Homo sapiens: one gene and its partners. The protein of the gene in region 2 interacts with the protein of the main gene of each other region in a pairwise test. Each region holds a gene or a part of one and is shown on either strand. Other genes may lie near its edges.

Region 1 (3,656 bases), on a different chromosome or scaffold from region 2:
AGCTAGCCAGTGTCAGAGGTAAACAGAACCTGGGCTGTATTTTCTTGTCCAGTGCTTTTCTCATTACTTTGGAGGAAAGACAGTCTGGAATGGGGTGTCAGACCTGGGCAGGGTGAGCAGGGCATTCCTGCAGGCAAACAGCCTGTTATGGGGAGTTGGAACCCACACAAGTGAGGAGGGATCCATGCAGCAGAGGCAGCCTGGAATGGGGAGTCAGGGCCCATGGAGCGGGAAGAGGTATCTATAAGGTGGAAAGGACGGAGTTAGAGAGCGGGGATTGATTCATACAGGGGAACTCATTAATATGTAAATAAACCAATGAAAGTGAAAGCTGTCAGCAAAGGGAGTTGCAATTAAGGAATGGAAGTAAATCAGATTGAACCCTATGGTGCTGTATTAGATCTGGATCAAACAGTATAGACTAGTGGTCATAGAGATATTGATGTAGATATATAGATACAGGCCAGACACGGTGGCTCATACCTGTAATCCCAGCACTTTGGGAAGCTGAAGCAGGTGGATCACTTGAGGACAGGAGTTCAAGATCACAAACATGGTGAAACCCCGTCTCTACTACAAATACAAAAATGAGCCAGGCGTGGTGGCACACACCTGTTGTCCCAGCTACTCGGGAGGCTGAGGCAGGAGAATTGCTTGAACCAGGGAGGTGGAGGCTGCAGTGAGCTCAGATTGCGCCACTGCACTCTAGCCTGGGTGACAGAGTGAGACTCGGTCTCAAAAAAAAAAAAAAGATATATAGATATAGAAATAAATACAGATGTAATGTGTGTATACGTACACCCATTATTATATTTACACTTACTCCCTAACTCCACTGAGAAGGCCTGGGAGCAGTAATACCCCAAAAGCATGAGTACATCTAGTGCACAGCTTTTGGCTTCTGATTTTCACTTTCCACTGAAAGAGATCAGGGCTCTTTAGAGGTATGTTCCAGAAAGCAGTCAAGTGAGCAAAGAACAAATGGGGTTGTATCTGGGAGATGCAGAAGCCAGCTTGAGTGGGGTTTGTCACTGGTCAAATCAGGGACAGTTTGAGGATCAAATTAACGATAGTAATGGATTTAAGCCCATTGAATAAAGATAAAATACTGATACAAATAACTAAATGAATACATTGAAAATTCGATGAGGAATGGGATATTTATATAGTTTCAAAGGACGTATCCATGAAATGAAAATTAAAGTTATTAATTACAGAAGGGTGAAAGAGTAACATTACAGGGAGGAAGACTGGCAGACGCCATCCTAATAAAGTAATTAAAATGAACATCATCAGTAATGAAAAAAATGAAAACATGCCAGTTTATAGGATGGGATGAGAACACAGCATCACCTCTGTACTGTTTTTGCCAAAAATCCATAACGTGAGTCCCATCATTAGGAAATATCAGACAAACTCAAATTGAGAAATGTTTTATACAATTGGCCTGTAACCTGTAAAAGTGTCAAGATCATAAAAGTCAAGAAAAGGTTGAGAAACTATTCCAGAGTTTTGTTGCCAACACATGGCAACAAAATGAAAAGTGTGACCCTGAACTGTATCCTTTTGCTATAAAGATGTTATTGGGAAAATTCGAGAAACTTGAATGGGGTCTTCTTAGATGACAGGGTCCCCTTGTGTGGTTCCCACAAAGACATTCTCCTTCATAACCACAATACAATATATCTCATTTACTAAGGGGACACTGAAGTATTCTAAGGATAGGGAATCAGGTGAACAACTTACTCTCAGAGAACTCAGGGGATAAAAGTTCTTTATATTGTACTTAATTTTAACAGTTTTACTTTTAAAAAAGTTTTACTTTTAAAAAAGTATTTTTTTAATGGTGGCTATTAAAACATATGAAGCATTTTTTTAAATGGTGGCCACCATGTAGGGTATCTGCTAAGTCTGCTCTATACTCTCAGAATTGCCTCTCCCATCTATAGGGGTGGGTTCCTGTATTTCTGAACTATGTGGCTCTGATCCCAGGGAATAAAGGTGGATTCCACACTCAAGCCATGTCAACAAAATTCTGTCTTCTACGAATTTGTATTTGGAAATCAGAAGCTAATTAGTTTCTACTGCCTACTTCAAACCTAGAAAACACGTAAACTGAAAAACTCCATCTGACATTTTGGGGTAGCTGTCTTCTACAGTGAGCATAGGGTAGACAAATCTGGTCTGCAGAGAGGGAAAATAGCAAAGCAGATAGATACCCAGAGAGAAGTAGATACAGGAGACAAGGCCCAAGAGAGAACGAAAGGCACTCCAATTCTAGTCCCTCATGAAGCCTCAGCTCCTGTAGGATACTACAGCACCCGCACAAAGTTCCTCCTTTTTGTGCAGGCCAGCTTGAGTGGATTTCTGCCAGTTGTAGACAAAAGTCTGTGACATCTCCTTCCCTACCTTGTGCTAAACTTTACAGCAACCCTGCTCCTTCTACAATAGGTCTCTTGGTGCCACTGTCAAGGGTGACTCTTTGATCATTGGTGTGACCCAAACATAACACCACTTAAGGGATCCAAGGATCTCAAGTCGGTTTCACTCACCAAGGCTGGCCTCGGCCAACAGCAGGTAAGCAGGCACAAGCTCTACGGAGCTCAGGCCATACAGCTTCACACGGAAGCGAAGGGACTGCAAAGCTGCTGGTACAGCATCTTCGTGTTTCCCTTCAAAGAGGTATTTCTGGGCTATGGTGTAGCAGAATTCAATCAAATACTTCTGTGGAAGAGAGAAACAGACTATCTGAGACAGTCTAAAGTTAAAGGCAAAGGTGGATGTAGATGGCCCTGGGGATAAGGCCAACACCTAATGACCCAGTTAAAGGCACATAGTGAGCCTGCCTGTATTAGAGTGGACGTGAAGCCCCACATAAGTGATATAAGAAAGCAAACTCTGGACTATGAGTTCCTTAAGGCCCAGGAACATGTGTATTTTCATCTTAGTTCAGCGCTTGGCATAGATGAATGCTCAATATAGAGTTATCAGATGAATAAATGAGTATTGTTTTTACAGTTCTAATAAAACTTTACTTTAGCAAAGCTAGCATGTCTCAGGACAATCTGAAACTTTCTGCCTTCCTAGTTGAGTTAATTTTGAGAGAAACATCTCATTTTCCCTTCCAGAATTATCCTGTTTAGCTAATATCACAAAAAACTTTAACTCTGCATTGTTCTAAGGCCACTATCAAAGTGTCATAACACTAAAATGGATGGATCTTATGTTTAGAGATTTATGGCTTATAATAAGGGGCTAATTTTTTAGAGTGATTGAGATGCTCAATACTCAATAATACTCAACACTATACATAATAATAGTGGCAGGTTTTGGTAACCTCCTTTATTTATTCAGTAGTATATCCATACATCATTCTTAACCCTCCTATTATGTGGCCAGACTCTTGGCATCTGTGGATGTTATGGGCTGAACTGTGTCCCCTGCCAAAATTCATGTGTTGAAGCCCTATCCTGCAGTCTGTCACATGACTATAATTGGAGCTAGGGCCTGTAGAGTGGTGATTAAGTTAGAATGAGGCCATTAGGGTGGGCCCTAACCTAATCTGACTTGTGTCTTTATAAAAAGAGGAAATTGGACACACAAAGAGATACCAGGCATGCTTGCACACAAAGGACCATGTGAAGACACTGTAGGAA
Region 2 (3,656 bases):
CCAATATCATACTGAATGGGCAAAAACTGGAAGCATTCCCTTTGAAAACTGGCACAAGACAGGGATGCCCTCTCTCACCACTCCTATTCAACATAGTGTTGGAAGTTCTGGCCAGGGCAGTCAGGCAGGAGAAAGAAAGAAAGGGTATTCAATTAGGAAAAGAGGAAGTCAAATTGTCCTTGTTTGCAGATGACATGATTGTATATTTAGAAAACCCCATTGTCTCAGCCCCAAATCTCCTTAAGCTGATAAGCAACTTCAGCAAAGTCTCAGGATACAAAATCAATGTACAAAAATCACAAGCATTCTTATACACCAATAACAGACAGACAGAGAGCCAAATCATGAGTGAACTCGATTCACAATTGCTTCAAAGAGAATAAAATACCTAGGAATCCAACTTACAAGGGATGTGAAGGACCTCTTCAAGGAGAACTGCAAACCACTGCTCAACGAAATAAAAGACGACACAAACAAATGGAAGAACATTCCATGCTCATGGATAGGAAGAATCAATATCGTGAAAATGGCCATACTGCCCAAGGTAATTTACAGATTCAATGCCATCCACATCAAGCTACCAATGACTTTCTTCACAGAATTGGAAAAAACTACTTTAAAATTCATATGGAACCAAAAAAGGGGCCACATTGCCAAGACAATCCTAAGCCAAAAGAACAAAGCTGGAGGCATCATGCTACCTGAATTCAAACTATACTACAAGGCTACAGTAACCAAAACAGCATGGTACTGCTACCAAAACAGAGATATAGACCAATGGAACAGAACAGAGCCCTCAGAAATAGTACCACACATCTACAACCATCTGCTCTTTTTTTTTGTTACAAAAAAGACAGGTTTGTTACAAACCTGACAAAAACAAGCAATAGGGAAAGGAGTCCCTGTTTAATAAATGGTGCTGGAAAAACTGGCTAGCCATAGGTAGAAAGCTGAAACTGGATCCCTTCCTTACACCTTATACAAAAATTAATTCAGGATGGATTAAAGACTTACATGTTAGACCTAAAACCATAAAAACCCTAGAAGAAAACCTAGGCAATACCATTCAGGACATAGGCATGGGCAAGGACTTCATGTCTAAAACACCAAAAGCAATGGCAACAAAAGCCAAAATTGACAAATGGGATCTAATTAAACTAAAGAGCTTCCGCACAGCAAAAGAAACTACCATCAGAGTGAACAGCCAACCTACAGAATGGGAGAAAATTTTTGCAATCTACCCATCTGACCAAGGGGTAATATCCAGAATCTAAAAAGAACTCAAATTTACAAGAAAAAATCAAACAACCCCATCAAAAAGTGGGCGAAGGATATGAATAGACACTTCTCAAAAGAAGACATTTATGCAGCCAACAGACAAGAACAGGAAAGGTGATGTCTACTCTCATCACTCTTCTTCAACATAGCACTAGCCAGTGGTGCTGGAAATTTTAGCCAGCATGTAAGGCAAGGAAAGGAAGTAAAAAGTATACAGATCAGAAAGGAAGAAACAGCCTGTAGCTCTGGGCAGAAGACATGCCTGACTATGTAGGGAAAAAAAATCCTACAGCTAACAAGTGAATTCAGCAAGGTTGTGAGATACAAGATAAACACAAAAATATCAATTCACTAGCAACGAGTACACGGACACCAAAATAAAAGCTAACATTCCATTTACGATTGCTCAAAAAATGAAACACTTAGATGTAACAAAACACGTACAGGATTTGTATGCTGAAACTAGAGAATCCTGATGAAAAAATTCAAAGATCTAAATAAAGGGAGAGCCAAATTGTGTTCATGAACTTAATATAGTGAATTTATCAATTCTCCCCAAACTGATATTCAAATTTAATTCAATACCTATCAAAATCCCAGCAAAAAATATTTATAGAGACAAGATTCTTCAAAAATTCATATGGAAAGGCAAAGGAACTAGAATAGCTAAAAAAAAAATTTTAAGACTTGCCATATAGCTGCAGTATTCAAAACTGTGTAGTATTGGTGGAGGGATGGATACATAGACCAACAGAACAAAATAGAGACCACAGGAATAGACCCATACAAACATGCCAACTGTGTTTTAAGAAAGGTGCAAAAGCAATTCAATGTTGGAGAAACAGCCATTTCAACAAATGGTGTGGAACAACTGAACTAAATCCAATGGCAAAAACTGTATTTAAGTCTCATCGTTTGTACCAAAAATTAACTCAAAACAGATCACAGATTGAAATGTAAAATGGAAAAGCATAAAAAAAAAAAACCCAAAAAAACAAAACACACACACACACACAAACCTTTAGGAAAAAAAAAAGGAGAAATTCTTCAATAACTAGGCGAAGAGTTTCTAGAGTTGACACAGAAAGCATGATCCATAAAAAGAAAAACTGATAAACTGAACTTCATAGAAATGGAGAACATTTGCTCTAAGAAAAATCGTGCTCTAAGATCATGTTAAAAGGATGAGAAGATAAAGCTACAGACTAGAAGAAACTATTTGCTAACCACCCACCTGACAAAGGACTAGTATCTAGAATATATGAAGAACTCTCAAAACCCAACAATAAATGAACAAACAACCCAATTAGAGAATCAGCAAAAGACATGAAGAACTATTTCATCAAAGAGGATCTTACACCAAAGAGGACAGCAAATAAGCACATGAAAAGATGTTCAGCATCATTAGTCATCAGGAAAATGCAAAATAAAACTACAAGGTATCACTACATGGATATTTAAAAGTGGCTAAAATAAAAAATTGTTGAGCTTCTGAGGACAGAGGAGAAAAAAATTAAAAAATAAACTGTGTTAACACCAAATGCTGGTGAGAATGCAGACAGACTGCGTAACTCATATATTTCTGATGGGAATGTTAAATGCTACAGCTGTTCTGGAAATCACTTTGGCAGTCTGTTACACAGCTAACATGCAGTTACCACAAAACCCAGCTAATACAATCTTGAGCATTTATTGCAGAGAAATGAAAATTGATGTTTATACAAAAACCTTTACCTGAATGTTTACATCAGATTTACTCATCAGAGCTAAATATTGGAAGCATTCCAAATGCCCTTTAATGGGCAAATGGTCAAATAAAATGGTATATACATGCCAATGGAATGTTACTCAGCAAAAAAAGGGAACAAATGATCAATACAAGCAACTTGGATGAATTTCCAGGAAATTATGCTGAATAAAAAAAAGCCAACTTGAAAAAGTTACATATTGTTTGATATCATTTATATAACATTCCTGAGGCACATACTTTTAAATTTATAATTAAAGGTTTATCCATGTTTTAGCATGATCAGTCTGTCATTCTTTTAATAGCTGAATAACATTTTATTACATGGATATACTATATTTTGTTTATCCATTAGACATTTGGGTTATTTCTACTTTTGGGTTATTTCTACTTTTAGACTATTGTGAATAATGCTGCATAAACATTTGTGTATGGGTTTGGGTAGACACAGGCTCATTAATTTTTAACCATTCTTTTTTCTAATATATGCATTTAAAGATATAAACTTTCCTCTAAGCACTGCATTAACTGCACGTCACATATTTTGGAATGCTGTTTTTTGAATCATTTAGTTTGAAATATTTTTCTAATTTCCAATATTATTTATTCCCCTTTTCTCATTGCTTATTTA
Region 3 (3,656 bases), about 43 Mb from region 2:
GTTCCTCTTTTACTTTTACACAGTGACCTCCAGAGAAGCCATGGCCGCAGCCTCATGGAGATGCTCCTCCTACCTGAGACAGATTCTACAGGCAAAGAGCCTCCCGCCATCATGTATGCAAAATCCTAAACTTGAAACTTACTGTGCAAATGATAATCTGATCCGTGCTTCAATTTCTATCCATTCTTCCTTTATAATTCTTCCACATTGTAGCAGCTCCTTTGAAAGTCTCTCTGCTTTTGTCAAATTCTCTGCAGCTTCCTTAAATCTGAATTGTGTTCAGGAAATTTTCCACTTGGTTCTAGATTCTACACCCCATGTCCTGAACTTCCTTGGCTCCCATACTTCCAATCACACTTCCTAAGTCATCCATCAGCATCAGCTTTTTACTTGGCGTGTAAGTGTTACGTGAATAGTATTTCTATTTGTAAAAGTTAGAGGCAAAAGGATACTTTTGAAGGGAGAGTAAAGCTCTGCCCATGGTATGGAAAAGCTCAATGGAAAACTTGAAAACATCTGTATTCTCACTATAGGGAGGCACAATGGAGTTGGCGAGGATTTGTCTGGCTTTTTCTGCATGTTGTTTTGCTTGCAGTGACAGTCCTGTGGACAAAGAAAAAGAGGTCTCAGTTTCTCTATCATCTCAACTGGACAGGAATACAGTTCCTTATGGTCTGGGAATCTAACAAGGTCTCCTTCACATATTGTCAAATGACACATGGAGACGTATCTGGGCAGCATGAAACACTGCCATGACTGTAACAACCAAAGAAGTGTTTTATACCAAGTACCCAAGATAAATTTTCCCCCAAATGGCCTTTTTAGAAATAAACAAAATGAGCTGGAATTGAACAGCTTTGAAACCTCACCAATAGCAGAAGCAAAATATGTTACATATAATTATAAGAAACAAACTGAATACAAGAACTATAGCATTCTGAGCAGGAAATAAAATATTCATGAATTTTAATCCTGGCTGTGTAACTGCAATCTTAATGAAATACTAAAAATTCTGAATCTTCAGCTCACCCACCTATAATCATAATGTCAGAGAGTTATTTTTTTAACATAATACATATCTGATATCTACAAAAACTTACAAACACAATTCCAGTGAGGTAACAGATTAATGTGTGACAATTTCATCTTCCTATGTGGTAAGAGACTAATATGAAACAAAGTGGAGCAAAAAAAAATCACTACTAAGAAAGAATTCCCCAGTGTGTTCCAGTGTTCCTCCACGGGCTTGTTAATCTGTGGGAAGGGAGGACTGAGATCGCTAGCACGGCTTCAGGGCTTTGCACGTCCCTGTATTCCCATCCTCCTCCCCTACACCGACAACCACTTCCACTCACATACACACAGCCCCCATCTTATGTTCTTAGTTACACAAAATTGTATCTTAGATCTCTAAAAAAATCTGTCAAAATATGAAGTTAATTCTGTTCCTATGTCTATAAAACAGGAAGAATATATTTTCTAATGGAGAAAATCAAGGGTATGTGTTTCATGTGGGAATTCTTACACAAGATTGTCTTATTACATATTTTTAAAAAGCACAGACATGTATTAGTGCCACCTGTGCTTGTGATGTTACACAAAGCATGTTGGACTGTATTTTCAACTGTGTCGAGTCCCTGAAGGAACCTGAACTCAATTTACTGGAGGCAGCATAGGGTGAAGTTCAAGAACATTGGCTCTGAAGTCAGACTGCCCAGGATGGATCCCCTGCTCCACCACTTATTATAAAACGTTGGCCTCAGCTTTCTCAGCTGTAAACAGGGATATTAAAAATACCCACCTTTGAGGACTGTGGTGAGGACTGAATAAGGTTATGCATGGAAAACAACATGCCTGGCACCAAATGAGACTTTAATAAATGGTAGATACTACTTTTACTTTAAATTGAGAAAGAAGGACTGTCACGCAGAGAGGCAGCAGGCTGTATAAGAAAAGCATCGTCTGAAACCCCAGATGGCAGGACAAACTGGCATTGAAAACCTAGGTCTGAGTCTCAGATCAGCTACTTATTAACAGTGTGGTATGGGGAAAGCTGTTCTAACTCAGACTCATTGTTTTCCCTGAATCTACAAAATGGGGTGGGAGGGCAGAGTTTAAATTAGATAATCTCCAAGGTCCCTAAGAGCCTTTGATCTAATAGGTAGGACCAGTCTATAATCAGATTTGGCCAAATTTATTGGGTGGCAATAATGAATACGCTTGGTATAGAATATGCTTGGCATTTGGTGTTTTCCACTTCTATTATTTTCTTTATTCACTGGGCCAACCCTGGAAAGTTAGCATCACCATTACCATCATCATCACTTTTCAGCTGAAGAAGCTGAGCACAGAGATGCTCTTGTCCATCTTGTCTTAGGCTGCACAGTCAGTAAGTAGAAGCCATCATCATATCCTGGGTGTCTATTGTTTTTGCCTCCCCTGCACGCATTCTCCCCTCTGTTTCCCTTTTGGGATGCCTGGCTCCTGCACATCCAATCCATGAGATGTGGCGAAGGCCTGCTTCTCCTTCAGGATCCAATGAAGCCAAAAGAAAGGTTTAGCCAATCAGACTATTCCTTGCCTTTGGTATACAACCCAAGTTGTTCCAATTAGAACCCTTCCCAAATCCCGGGATTTTGGTGGAGGGACATTCTTTTCCTCCTGGGAATGCTTATAAGGGAAGTCTAAAGTTGCAGGCAGTCTTGTTGCCACCATGTGGGCAAAACCTGGCAAAGAATGGAGCAAATACCAAGAAAAACAGAGCCAAGCAGTGGGAGAGAGAAAAATTGAATCCTGGTCACATTGTTTGAACACTGGATATGGCTAAGTCTAAAAATTTTTTCCCTTGAATTTTTAAGTTGTATGAGCCAAAAACTTTTGTTTATGCCAATTTGGGTTAGTCTTTTTAAATTTTTTGGTTATTTACAGTCAAGAGATTCTCCAATAAAAGTGTGAATGGATCCCATTCTGGGCCCCTATTCCATACCTTGGGTTTTTTCCTACAAAGTCTTCTGGCCCAACAGATTAATTTTCTCCTAAGAACCTTACTTTTGAAATCATAAAAACAAAAACAAAAACAAAAAAACCAGAAAAGTTAAAATATTTTTTCCATTTTTCCCCTTTGAATGTTTACAGGTTATATACCTTATCAACTCTTTCTAAAAAGAAATGGCTTCTTGGTATTTAGAAAGGAGAATATTAAAAAACCTGATCCTTCTAATTAAGTGTGAATCAAATTTTGGGGAGAACAGCAGAAATCGACCAACTGATCCCCCTCAGTCTAAGGCGAGCTTACCTTTCAGCTGGAGGTAGCCTTGAGCCAGATTAACATGTGCCTCTGCTAGTTTCCAATGTGAGTCTCCATAGCAAATTCTTGTCAGTGCTACGCAACGCACAAGCTCATGGACGGCCTGTTTGTACTGTTAGGAAGAGAAAACAGGCTTACCAGTTATACAACTTAAGAGTCACAAAACACAAAATCAATGCGCTTTTATATCCCTTTGATAAATACTGAGTGACTACTATGTGCAAAACATTGTTCTAAGCACTTGAGATGTATCAGAGAACAAAACAGACAAAGATCTATTTGGGGTGGTAGCATGTACATCTGGTAAGATGAAACAGACAATAAACATAAGAAGTACAATTTATAGTAC

Evidence for each region.
Region 1: the proteins of MNS1 (region 2) and ZMYND12 interact in binary tests that used the Homo sapiens proteins (3 or more experiments, as listed by UniProt).
Region 3: the proteins of MNS1 (region 2) and TTC23 interact in binary tests that used the Homo sapiens proteins (3 or more experiments, as listed by UniProt).

What each region holds. Positions count from the first base shown.
Region 1 is NC_000001.11:42,445,915-42,449,570, forward strand, and holds part of ZMYND12 (zinc finger MYND domain-containing protein 12), read right to left. Parts: intron 2,725-3,656; coding exon 2,553-2,724; intron 1-2,552. UniProt on the Homo sapiens protein: Required for sperm flagellum function and male fertility.
Region 2 is NC_000015.10:56,437,501-56,441,156, forward strand, and holds part of MNS1 (meiosis-specific nuclear structural protein 1), read right to left. Parts: intron 1-3,656. UniProt on the Homo sapiens protein: Microtubule inner protein (MIP) part of the dynein-decorated doublet microtubules (DMTs) in cilia axoneme, which is required for motile cilia beating.
Region 3 is NC_000015.10:99,218,446-99,222,101, forward strand, and holds part of TTC23 (tetratricopeptide repeat protein 23), read right to left. Parts: intron 3,420-3,656; coding exon 3,296-3,419; intron 604-3,295; coding exon 453-603; intron 269-452; coding exon 143-268; intron 1-142. UniProt on the Homo sapiens protein: Participates positively in the ciliary Hedgehog (Hh) signaling.